Homo sapiens: one gene and its partners. The protein of the gene in region 1 purifies or fractionates together with the protein of each later gene. This does not show direct contact. Each region holds a gene or a part of one and is shown in the gene's direction. Other genes may lie near its edges.

Region 1 (2,391 bases):
CAATGAGTGTTTACTCATGTTCTTTCTTGTTGATGAGTTCTGCGGCCCAGCATATAGAAATGGCTCAGAACGTTCCAGGCCTTGGTGAGACACAGCAGCGTCCAATGCTCACAGGCTGTCCCCACTCTGCCTGTTCCCATCTTCCCCTCGGGACCTGTTTATAAATTGAGGAATGGATGAGGGCCCTGGAGGGTCCTTGGGAGTAGTTAGTGGAGGGCAGGATTCTCAGGTCCCCATAGAGAGGGAAAGAGAAGACCAGATGTGCATAGAAGCCAGTCTCTGTCACATACACCGCAGGTGGTCACCGAGTTATTTTCCAAAAGCTGAGGAACATAAAGCAAATTTAGGCTTTTGTCCTTCTGCAATACATGCACTTGAAAATAAACAGAAAAGAGATGTTTAATAACAAGTTTACTTCCGGTCTGCTAGCACCCTCAGCCTGGGAGCTACTGCCAGAGGCTGGCGTAGTGGGGCAGCTGCTGACCAAACCCCACAGAACAGAGGGCACCAGGCATCACACGACATCTTTCCCTCCCATCTCTGCCATCTGTCTGTCTGGCAATGGAAGGAGCTTCAGCAGGAGGTCCTTCCCAGAAGGTTGATTCTTGGCCTGGGTGGTAGAGGAGATATCCTGACCCTAAAGTCTTCCAGCCCCGGGTCATCCTCTCCTATACTAGGGCCTATTGACCGTAGAGGCCAGGTGCGGTGGCTCATACCTGTAATCCCAGCAGTTGGGGAGGCCAAGGTGGGAGGATTGCTTGAGCCCAAGAGTTGGAGACCAGCCTGGGCAACATGGTGAGACCAATTGACTGTAGGGCTTGTCCCTTGCTAAGACAGGAGCAGAAGACTGGATGGCTGTGTCCTCAAGGCAGTCCCCTCCCATCCCCATTCCCAAAGTCAGAAAGTGAAGCCAGATCTCAAGGGCTGATACCTGAGGCAAGGAGAGCTAAGGGGAGAGAAATTGGGGCTGAGTGGAAGCAGATGCCTGCACAAGCCAAGTGTGTCTTATTGATCTGTACAAGCTGATAGAAGGACCATCTGCTGAAATCCAGGGCTCCTGAGTTGGTGGGTTTGCTTGTGAAGCTTCTAGGACAAGGCGCAGCCAGATGGAAGGGAGAGGGTCCAGGGCTTCCTAAATGCAGCCGCATCACCTGTCAACTCGCTGCAGTTTCAGAGACAGTGGAAGCTGCTCTTTACCTCAAAAGCACAAAGCAGAATTGGCAACTTCACTTGTCTCAAGAGCTCCAAGATCCTTTGGTCTCGTGTCCTTTGGCACCCCGTAACTGGACTGGGGACAAATTTGTTACGTGTTTCCAAGGCTACAGACATGGCGCCATCCTCACAGGCCTAGCTCATGTCATGGATCAGGTGCTTTGCTGGGGGGATACAATGACCCATGTGGTCTGCGTCTTCTGCCATTGGCTTGAACTGGGCACCCCCTGAAGTCTCCATCTCAGCTGTATATTCTAGTCCAAATTTTCCTGGCTCCCCTGCTCCCTCCCAGGTCCTGCACACTGTCTTTTTGCCAACACCTCAGCCCTGTTTGCTATTTCATGTCTGCATGGTACGAGACACCCCTTCACGGCATACACTGCCATGGTATGTACATATGCATCCACGTGTGTGTATGTGTAGCATGTAGCTCATTCTGCTCAGCCTCTGGCGCCGTTCCACATTGCTCCCAGCCCCATTGCTGTCACTGTCGTCCCAGATGTCCTTGCCATGGCCACAGACAATCTGCCGTCTCCTGGAAACGCTGGGGCTGCCCTTCAGAGAGCTGGCAGCCCCAGCAGTCAGGGCCTGCTTTGCAGAATAGAATGTGAACCCAACTCCTGATGGCCTACTTGACTTATTTAATTAAAGATGAAATCATGCAATGAGCAAAACCTGCAGCGTGTCTCTGCCTTTTCCTTTGCATTTGTTCTCAGCAGCAATTGGGTCATAATTTTTTTTTTTTTTTAATTAACAGTGGTAGAAAGGAGGTGACTTCCAGCATGAAGCAGGACAGAGAATCCCCCTGCCCATTCCCAAGGGACCAAAGGCACTAGGGGAATATGGGGCAGGATGAATGTACCTTGCGTCACCAGGCTGGCAGAGCTGATGGGGACTGCGCTGAGCGGAGAGAGAGAAAACCCAGGTATTTGGGGGCAGAGACAGGAGTGTTGGGCCAGCGGTCAGGGGGCCTGGGGATGAGTCCCAGCTTTGCCACTGTCTGGCTGTGTGACCTTGCATAAGTCACTTCCCTTACTTGGACACCAGTTTCCTTTTAGAATGAAGGTGTAATCAGTTGTTCACAAACATTGTTCCCAAAAAGCCCCATTAGGGATTCAAAAGTCAGCTGAAAGGGCAGGCGGCACCCTCTCAACAAGAGTCACTGTGCGTTTTGATCTG
Region 2 (3,559 bases), on another chromosome or scaffold:
CTTGAGGTAATTGTTAAGCATGTTGGTTTTTGAAATAGATTTTAAGCAATATATGAAATTTTAGTCATACATAATTTATCCTAAGTCATCCTGTTGAGATGTTTGGACTGCCATTTATATGGCTAAGAAGGTGTTAGCTGAAGTTAATTCAATAGTTCTTAATTTCAGTCAGTGTCACATAGGAAAGTGTAGATAGAGCTTTGGGTCCTGGAGTCCTGCCCACATCCTGTCTGTGTCTCTAACTGCTTGTGTGTCGCTAGGTAAGTTCTGTGACTGCAGGTTCCTGAGCTGTAAACTAGGATGTTTTCCACATTATAGGGTTGTTGAGGGAATTCAGTAAGCTAACTTATGTGCCTAGTTCATAGCAGGTGGCCATTACTATTAGTTTCTACATCAGCCTGTTATCTCCTTCCATCAGCAGCAGGTAAACAAAATTCCTGTCATTACATTGTTATCTTACAGATTAAAACAAAATGAGGTACATTTTTCACATATCATTGCTTCTTTACTTTTCTGTTCATTCGTGTGCTTGCTGTCTGAAGGATGAAGCTGGAACTTTAGGTACTTACAACATATTTTGTATATGAAATTTATTTTAGCAACTGTGACTTATGTGAGAACTTTGTAGGCTTTTTACTCAAATATGAGATATACTAAGAAAAGGGAAGCACTTCACAACATTTTACAGAATCTTTTTTCCTTTCTTTCCCTTTTTTTTTTTTTTTTTTTTTTGAGACAGAGTCTTGTTCTTTCGCCCAGGCTGGAGTGCAGTGGTGTGATCTTGGCTCACTGCAACCAACCTCCACCTCCCGGGTTCAAGTGATTCTCATGTCTCAGCTCCCAAGTAGCTGGGATTTCAGCCATGTGCCACCACACCCAGCTAATTGTTGTATTTTTAGTAGAGATGGGGTTTCACCATGTTGCCCAGGGTGGTCTCGAACTCCTGAGCTCAAGCAATCCTCTTGCCTCAGCCTCCCAAAGTGCTGCGATTACGGGCGTGAGCCACCATGCTCAGCCATTTTTATCTTACCTTTCATATTTAAAAAATATATATTGCTATGATGTGTGATTATTGTTGGGTTCTTGGTTGCCTCTGGAAAATGGGATGATAATCTTAGAAGGACTTGCTTCATGGGATGCGGCCTATAAAAGTTCTGCCCCAACTGTAGGGCGGAAGATAATTTTCGTTATTGTAGTTAGAGTCTTATTGTAGAGAATCAGACTTCTGTCTAGTGACCTTAATTAAATTGTGACACCATGCTTAAAGGAGCCTGCCAGCTTTTACTTTTGCAGTACTGTAAAGTCATTATTCAAATGTAAATTTTCCTTTTTGAATTTTAGCTTGAATTAGAGTCTGTCAAAGCCCAGTCTTTGGCAATAACAAAACAAAACCATATGCTGAATGAAAAGGTTAAAGAGATGAGTGATTATTCACTACTAAAAGAAGAGAAACTGGAGCTTCTGGCACAAAATAAATTACTTAAACAACAACTGGAAGAGAGTAGAAATGAAAACCTGCGTCTCCTAAACCGTATGTATTTTTCTTTTCTTCTGACTTGCGTGTTTTAGTAATTCGCATTAGGTCAGTATTATAAAACTATGCTTTGTACTTGTATAAGGTAGGGGGCTTACATTGGGAAGATTTATAAAATTAAGATTCTTGGATTAAACTCTGCAAACCTGCCTATAGGTGGTATCAAAGCTTCCCTTGCCCTCTGACTGCTGATTGGGTTTGGCCAGTGGGGACACCAGCCTCTACATACAGTGGCCCTAGGCTGGCCACTGTGCCTCATGGCCAAGTGAGGCCATAGTGCCTGCGATTACCTCTTCCAAGTGCTCTGCACCACCACCCTGTCTCTAGTGCTGAGAATTTCTCCCTCCTCTGATTCCCCAGGCCCAAGGAGCGCTAACAGTATGGCCCTGTTACTAGCCCACCCAGGGAACTCCACCATCCTTTGTGCATACCCTGAATAAGTCAACCTTTATTAAAGGGTTCTTAGATGACCTTGACCGTGAGAGCCATCTGCCTTCTGCCTGGATCCCAACTGCTGCTGTCAGATGCCCAGATCATATTGGATCCCAGGGCTGTCATCAACAGGTAGACCAGATAGAGAGCTCCTTCTGTGCACAGTAGAGGAGAGAAACAGGCTTTCAGGTTAATTTGAGAATTTGAAAGAGTTCTTTTACTTGGAGTAGGACTCCAAGGGTAATAAAGTTTGCATTAACATGCACTAAATTCTTTTGTTGTGAAATTTGAGAGTCAGGATTGCTCTGAGCTCATTTAATAGAATTATTATCATATTTATTGAGTCAGTACAAAGCAAAGAACACTTTAAAACCCCTTTAACTGTTTTTGTTAAGTTAAATAAGAAAACTTAAGGTTGGTAATGACTAGGATTTTTTTTTTTTTTTTACCTTCTTAGGCCTAGCTCAGCCGGCTCCTGAACTTGCAGTCTTTCAGAAAGAACTACGGAAAGCCGAAAAGGCTATAGTGGTTGAGCATGAGGAGTTCGAAAGCTGCAGGCAAGCTCTGCACAAACAACTGCAAGACGAAGTGAGTATTGCTCTTCTTCAGTTCTAGTGTGATACCAGTACACTTCATAGTTACGTAAACTTGGCACAAGTCACACTAGTGTAAATCAGATTTATTTTAACATCAAACATTACTCCCCCAAATATGCTAAAGGTATCCTTTCTCATCTGAGAAAATTCTGCAGTGATAACGTGACTTTATATTCGTAATAGTAATAAAATGGAGAAGAAAGCAAACTCACCTAAACATAAAATTTTCTGAGTGCCTGATGGTGCCCACTGTTATCTCTCGATTCTCACCCTGATAAGTATTACAAACATTCACTGTCTTCTGATTTCTGCCTGCATGCCCTAGAGTTCTTTGATATGACTGAAAAAGATGGTGAAGAACTTGTTTGTGTGTTCTGCTTGTGTTTTTTTTTAATAGGGACCCTGTTGTTTACTGTCATAAAGCTTCTTGGAATTGGCAGAACAAAAAGAGTACAAACATGATAAGAGAACTTTTCCTTTTGAAGCAAGCTGTGATTTGTTTTACATTGATTTCTTTTCCTATTCTGAATCTTTTCAGATTGAGCATTCTGCACAGCTGAAGGCCCAGATTCTAGGTTACAAAGCTTCTGTAAAGAGTTTAACTACTCAGGTTGCCGATTTAAAATTGCAACTGAAGCAAACTCAGACAGGTTAGAGACGTTTTAACCCATAAATATTTTTGTATGTATAAAGCTTCTGGTGTCTGTGAAAATGTAATGATCATAATTTATTGAATATTAATTATTGTTTTAGGGGAAAAGCCATAGAAATATGTGTCATCTTAGAAGTAAAACTCCCTATCCATTTTGGTAATACCATCTGGATCATCAGCAAAAGTATTTTGCTTCATAGGTGCCTCATGGCTTGGGAGAGTCTCATGCCCCAATAGGAAAGGCGTGGTGGTAACATAGAAGTCCCCATATTCATTATAGGATTTCCTTTTTTATTTGTTACCCCAATGTTAACACCAATTCAGTAGTTTTACGGATTCCTTGAT
Region 3 (2,650 bases), on another chromosome or scaffold:
AAAGAAATCAAGCCCTCCTCCTCTTGGGCCAGTGCTCTTCTTCCTGGCCATGGGACCTCTCAAGTAGGAGTGTAGGCGTGGGCCCATCCAGCAACATTTGGGCATTCGTGGACATCCACATAGTGTTGTTTCTGTTCTTTTCCTCTCCTTCCTCATCTTCTCTCGTCTTTGTTGAATATTTTTATTATCCCGTCACCTCCTCTATCAGCTTATAACTTGTTCATTCTTTTCCTATCTTTTGGTGTTTATGCTTGCGATTGCAATATATAGCCTTGATTTTTTACGGTATACTATAAATTATTCCTTCTACCACTTTACCAATGAAGACTTTGAAACACCTCTAACTACATTCACTCCCTTCTGCTTTTTATGCCATTCTTGCCGCCATGCTATGATACATTTATTTAAAGTCCTGCAAGAAATGGCTATTAGTATTGTTTTGTGCAGTCCGTATTCATTTTTACCACATTTTTACACTTTATGTTGCCCTTTATTCCTTCTTCTATTTTATTATTATTATTATTTTTGGTGTGAGATCATCTTCTTGCTGCCTGACAAACTCCCTTTCATATATATTTTTTATTTTTATTTTTTGAAACAGGGTCTCACTCTGTCCCCCAGGCTGGAGTGCAGCGGTATGACCTTAGCTCACTGCAACCTCCACCTCCTGGGCTCAAACAATTCTCCTGCCTCAGCTTCCCGTGTAGCTGGGACTACAGGTGTGCACCACTACGCTGGGCTAATTTTTGTATTTTTTGGTAGAGATGGGGTTTCGCCATGTTAGCCAGGCTGCTCTTGAACTCCTGACCTCAAGTGATCCACCCGCCTCAGCCTCCCAAAGTGCTAGGATTACAGATGTGAGACACCGTGCCCAGCCTCATATATTTTTTGATGAAAGTCTGCTGAGGATGAATTCTGTCCACTTTTATTATCTGAAAACATCTTTATTTTGCCTCATTTTAAATAGTATTTAGATTGGGTGTAGACTTCTATATTGCCAATTAGTTTCTTTTAGCACTGTAAATACAGATGTCCAGTATTTTCAGATTCAGTTATTTCAGCTGAAAAGCTAGCTGAAAGTCTTGTTGCTCCTCTGAAGGTAATATGACTTTTTTCAAAAAATACATTTATAAAATTTTTTTTCTTTGCCTTGATAGTTTTACTACAAGGTGCCTGGATGAGACTTTCTCTGAATTTGTCTTGCTTGGGGTTCATAGAATCTGTGACTTGATGTCTTTCATGAGTTTTGAAAAATGCTAGCCATTATCTCTTAAATATTGCTATTACTCTACTCCCTCTTCTCTTTCAGATATTTCAGTTACACCAATGGCCAATGTTTGCTCGTGTCTCATATGTCTCTTGTTCTAGTTTCTGGATTTGTATTCTTTTTTCCTTTTCACATTCAGTCTGGATATTTTCTGCTGACCTATATTCCAGTTCACTAATAATGCTTTTCACTGTATCTAATTTGCTTATAAATAGAAAACCATTGATTGAGTTATTAATTTCAGTTATAGAATAGCCAGTGTAGACTCCAATGCTTGGCTCCACTTCTCCACTTTTTCACCTATTTTTTTCACCATCTTCCATTTTCTTCAACACACCAGTCAGAGTCGTTTTTAAAGACATTTTAAACACCTCAGTGGCCTGTAGATCTTATCTTCTGTTTTTTGTTTCTTTTTAATCTTAGTTTTTTGGCACACTTGGAGGGTTTTGATTGAATGCTAGACATAGTATTCAGGAAGGCAGAGAGGATTTTTTTTTAAGTCAGATTTTTTGAGGTATAATTTAATACAGTAAAATTCACCTATTTTAGTTCAGTTCTAAGAGTTTCCTCTGTGACTTTTCCTTTGGCCCATGGTTTATTTAAAATTGTGTTCTTTTACTTCCAAATTATTTGGGATTTTTCTAGATATCTTTCTGTTCTTGATTTCTGGCTTACCTCTATCAGGGTCAGAGAACAAACTTAATATGATTTCAATTATTTTAAATTTGCCAATGTTTATTTTATGGCCCAGAATATGGTCTATGTTGGTGAAAGTTCAATTTGAACTTGAAAAGAATATGTTTTATGCTGTTGTCTACTGAAAAGTCTATATATAAAAAATAGATTAATAAACTGATTAATAGCCTGGTTCACCACTTTCGTAGCCTTACTGATTTTCTGTTTAGTCATTCTGTTGATTACTAACAGATTCTCTAACAGAGAAGTATAAGCTTTCTAACTATAATGGTGGGTTAATCTGTTTCTCGTTTCAGTTCTAGCAGATGTTTCCTCAATTTTTGACGTTGCATTTTTAGGTGAATGCACTTCTGGAATTGTATTGTGTCCTTGCTGAATTGTCCCTTTTATCAACATGTAATAGCACCCTTTATTCTTGATAATAGTCTTTGTTCTGAATTTTACTTTGTCTGTTATTCCTATAGCCTTTCCAATTTTCTTTCGCTTGGATTTTACGTGATAAGTTTTTTCCCCCATTTTACTTTTAGCAACTCTATATTTTTTAGTTGAGGTTGGGTTTCTTGTAAACAGCATATAATTTGGGTTTTTTAATCCAATCTGAAAATTAATGTCCTTAATTTTGTGTTTATACCATTTACACATAATGTACTCATATATAAGGTTTAACTGAAACCTACTATCTTGCTA
Region 4 (3,511 bases), on another chromosome or scaffold:
AACAAAAAAACAAGCAGACAAACAAAACCCAGAAAAACAAAAAAACATGTAAACCATATTTGTTTAGCTTGCGGGAGGGAGGCTGAATTTGGCCTGTGGCTGTAGTTTGTTGAACCTTGAACCTTGCAGTGGATGAGCACTGAGGAGTGAGACTGAGTTTTTGACTTGGTGCATCTGGCAGCACTGCATGGAGGAGGTGGAACTAGAACTGGTCCCTGATGGGTCGGGATGTAGTCGTAGTGGCAAACTTGTGTAATCTTCACTTTGTGCTTTTCATGTACTGACTCACTGAATGCAATATCCCCAGACGCTAGGTAGTTTTATTACCCTAGTTCCATATGTGAGGGAACAGAGGCACGAGGCTCACTAGCTCATCTGACGTCCTGTGTGCATATGGGGACAGAATGGAAACCTGGCATTTAACCTCAGAGTCCACACTTGCAACCACGGCTCTTTGGTATGGGTGGGGGTGCAAGGAAGCAGCAAGGTTTCTGTAGATGATGAATTGCCGGTGGGATAGGTGGGTTGGGGCTGGGGTTGGGCAGGAGAGGGCAATGCCTCGATGCAGGCTTTATTTTATGTTCACTCCAGGGAGGAGGTTTTTAGAGGATGTCACGACTAGGGTTGAGTGTCAGTTAATCTACCTGTCTCTGCTCTGAAGAGTGCTTTCTGTCATGGATTGACATTATTTAATGGCCAGCATGGTAGACTTAGATGGTAGGGTTGTAATTTCTAACGTGAGCCCTGACACTAATTTAGTAGACGGTAGTCAAAAGGTGTGTTGGGATGTGTGTGTGTCCATGTGCACACACGTGTGTAATTGGAGTAATTGATTTTCATTTATTTTTATTTTTTTTGAGACAGAATCTCACTCTGTTGCCCAGGCTGCAGTGCAGTGGTTTGATCACGGATCACTGCAGCCTCAGCCTCCTGGGCTCAAGCCATCCTCCCACCTCAGCCTCCTGAGTATCTGGAACTACAGTTGTGCACCACCGCGCCTGGCTAATTTTTGTATTTTTTGCAGAGATAAGGTTTGGCCATGTTGCCTAGGCTGATCTTGAATTCCTGGACTCAAGTAGTCTGCCCACCTTGGCCTCCCAAAGTGCTAGGATTACAGGCATGAGCCACTGAGCTGGGCTGGAGTAATTGAATTTTATTTTCTTATTTTTCTTTTTCTTTTTTTTTTTTAGAGTCAGGGTATTGCTATGTTGGCCAGGTTGGTCTTGAACTCTTGGCCTCAGGCAGTCCTCCTGCCGCGGTCTCCCAAGGTGCTAGGATTACAGGTGTGAGCCACTGCACCCAGATGGAGTAATTGAATTTTAAACTCTGGGCATATACTGAACCTGTGCACTACTTTGTTTCATTTGTGAGCTCAATTATAGAAAAACCAAAGTTGTTCACAAGGGAATCTTTCACAAGCTATCTCTTTATTTGCTCTTTCTCTATTTAGGAGCAGATGGAAAAGTTGAAGCAAAAGGCATCAAAGGTGATCAAGGCTCAAGAGGATCCCCAGGAAAACATGGCCCCAAGGGGCTTGCAGGGCCCATGGGAGAGAAGGGCCTCCGAGGAGAGACTGGGCCTCAGGGGCAGAAGGGGAATAAGGGTGACGTGGGTCCCACTGGTCCTGAGGGGCCAAGGGGCAACATTGGGCCTTTGGGCCCAACTGGTTTACCGGGCCCCATGGGCCCTATTGGAAAGCCTGGTCCCAAAGGAGAAGCTGGACCCACGGGGCCCCAGGGTGAGCCAGGAGTCCGGGGAATAAGAGGCTGGAAAGGAGATCGAGGAGAGAAAGGGAAAATCGGTGAGACTCTAGTCTTGCCAAAAAGTGCTTTCACTGTGGGGCTCACGGTGCTGAGCAAGTTTCCTTCTTCAGATATGCCCATTAAATTTGATAAGATCCTGTATAACGAATTCAACCATTATGATACAGCAGCGGGGAAATTCACGTGCCACATTGCTGGGGTCTATTACTTCACCTACCACATCACTGTTTTCTCCAGAAATGTTCAGGTGTCTTTGGTCAAAAATGGAGTAAAAATACTGCACACCAAAGATGCTTACATGAGCTCTGAGGACCAGGCCTCTGGCGGCATTGTCCTGCAGCTGAAGCTCGGGGATGAGGTGTGGCTGCAGGTGACAGGAGGAGAGAGGTTCAATGGCTTGTTTGCTGATGAGGACGATGACACAACTTTCACAGGGTTCCTTCTGTTCAGCAGCCCGTGACAGAGGAGAGTTTAAAAATCCGCCACACCATCCATCAGAATCAGCTTGGGATGAACTTATTCAGATGGTTTTACTTTATTAATTCCTCCAATTATTACAATAATCATAAAAAGGTGAAAATGGAAAAGTTATTCCCAAAACTGATTCTGTGTAACTTACTATTTTTCCAGGAGTAAATATTTAAAATAGCTGCATGGTTTATTCTAATTTATTTCACATTTCTTATTCCTATTATCTGAAGAATCCCTCGTCTGTGCGTTTCTTGTGGGAAGAGTGTTTTAATATCATTTTAGTGCTCTGAGGAGTCATATGAAGATGTATCCCTCATCTGTGTTTCTGAGGACATTAAGGGGAAATTAGAGGGAAATGTTTATTCAATTTAGTACTAGCAACAGCTTTAAGCTGGTGATGCTGTCATACTCCAGAAAGCTGTAGACACTGCTCATTTTGTCTTTTAAAAAAATTTTATTTTATTTTAAGTTCTGGGATACATATGCAAAACATGCATGTTTGTTACATAGGTAAACATGTGCTGTGGTGGTTTGCTGTATCTATCAACCCATCACCTAGGTATTAAGCCCTGCATGCATTAGCTATTTGTCCTGGTGCTCTCCCTCCCACTTTGCTCATTTTCTAACCTAGGTTTTAATCACCATTTTACCCAACAAATCATTGTTCGATCATTATTTGCCAGACTTGAATCTCTATGTGTTTTCTAGGACTGCTCTAATAAAGTACACAAACTGGGAGTCTTTAAACAACAGAAATGGACTTTCTCACAGTTCTGTAGGCTGGAAGTTTGAGATCACCGTAGCAGCAGGGCCATTCTCCCTCCAAAGGGGATACAGGAGGATGCAGCCTTGCTGCTTCCAGCTTCTGGCAGCTGGTGGCAGCATCACTCCAGTCCCCGCCTCCATCTTCAGGTGGCTGTCCTCCTTCTGTATCAGCCAAATTTTCCTCTTCTTACAAGGACAGCTTCCCTAATCTACTATGACCCATCTTAATCATATCTGCAGCTCCTTATTTTCAAATAAGGTCACATGTACAGGTTAGGACTTCAGCATCTCTTTTGGGAGACACAGTTCAACACAAAACAATCTGCCCTCTGATTCCCAAAGTTGATTTCCTTCACCTGTGCAAAATACATTTTCGCCCCATCTCAACATTTCCAAAAGTCTTAACACTTTCCGCGTCGAGCTTTCCTGAGCCCCTCTGGTGCAGCCACCTGCCTGTCCCATACACCCCGCCCACCATGGAGTCCAGAGGGAAATGAGCCAGCAGCCCCAAA

What was found.
Region 2: the proteins of CHST3 (region 1) and OFD1 purify together in Homo sapiens (affinity purification with mass spectrometry; one large-scale study listed by BioGRID and IntAct). This does not show direct contact.
Region 3: the proteins of CHST3 (region 1) and FCN1 purify together in Homo sapiens (co-immunoprecipitation; one large-scale study listed by IntAct). This does not show direct contact.
Region 4: the proteins of CHST3 (region 1) and C1QTNF9 purify together in Homo sapiens (co-immunoprecipitation; one large-scale study listed by IntAct). This does not show direct contact.

Annotation. Positions count from the first base shown.
Region 1 is NC_000010.11:72,011,673-72,014,063, forward strand, and holds the end of CHST3 (carbohydrate sulfotransferase 3), read left to right. Parts: 3' UTR 1-1,886; downstream 1,887-2,391. UniProt on the Homo sapiens protein: Sulfotransferase that utilizes 3'-phospho-5'-adenylyl sulfate (PAPS) as sulfonate donor to catalyze the transfer of sulfate to position 6 of the N-acetylgalactosamine (GalNAc) residue of chondroitin.
Region 2 is NC_000023.11:13,755,237-13,758,795, forward strand, and holds part of OFD1 (centriole and centriolar satellite protein OFD1), read left to right. Parts: coding exon 1-6; intron 7-1,341; coding exon 1,342-1,531; intron 1,532-2,423; coding exon 2,424-2,554; intron 2,555-3,100; coding exon 3,101-3,212; intron 3,213-3,559. UniProt on the Homo sapiens protein: Component of the centrioles controlling mother and daughter centrioles length. Recruits to the centriole IFT88 and centriole distal appendage-specific proteins including CEP164. Involved in the biogenesis of the cilium, a centriole-associated function.
Region 3 is NC_000009.12:134,902,724-134,905,373, reverse strand, and holds the end of FCN1 (ficolin-1 precursor), read left to right. Parts: 3' UTR 1-2,142; downstream 2,143-2,650.
Region 4 is NC_000013.11:24,319,546-24,323,056, forward strand, and holds the end of C1QTNF9 (complement C1q and tumor necrosis factor-related protein 9A precursor), read left to right. Parts: intron 1-1,450; coding exon 1,451-2,223; 3' UTR 2,224-2,986; downstream 2,987-3,511. UniProt on the Homo sapiens protein: Probable adipokine. Activates AMPK, AKT, and p44/42 MAPK signaling pathways.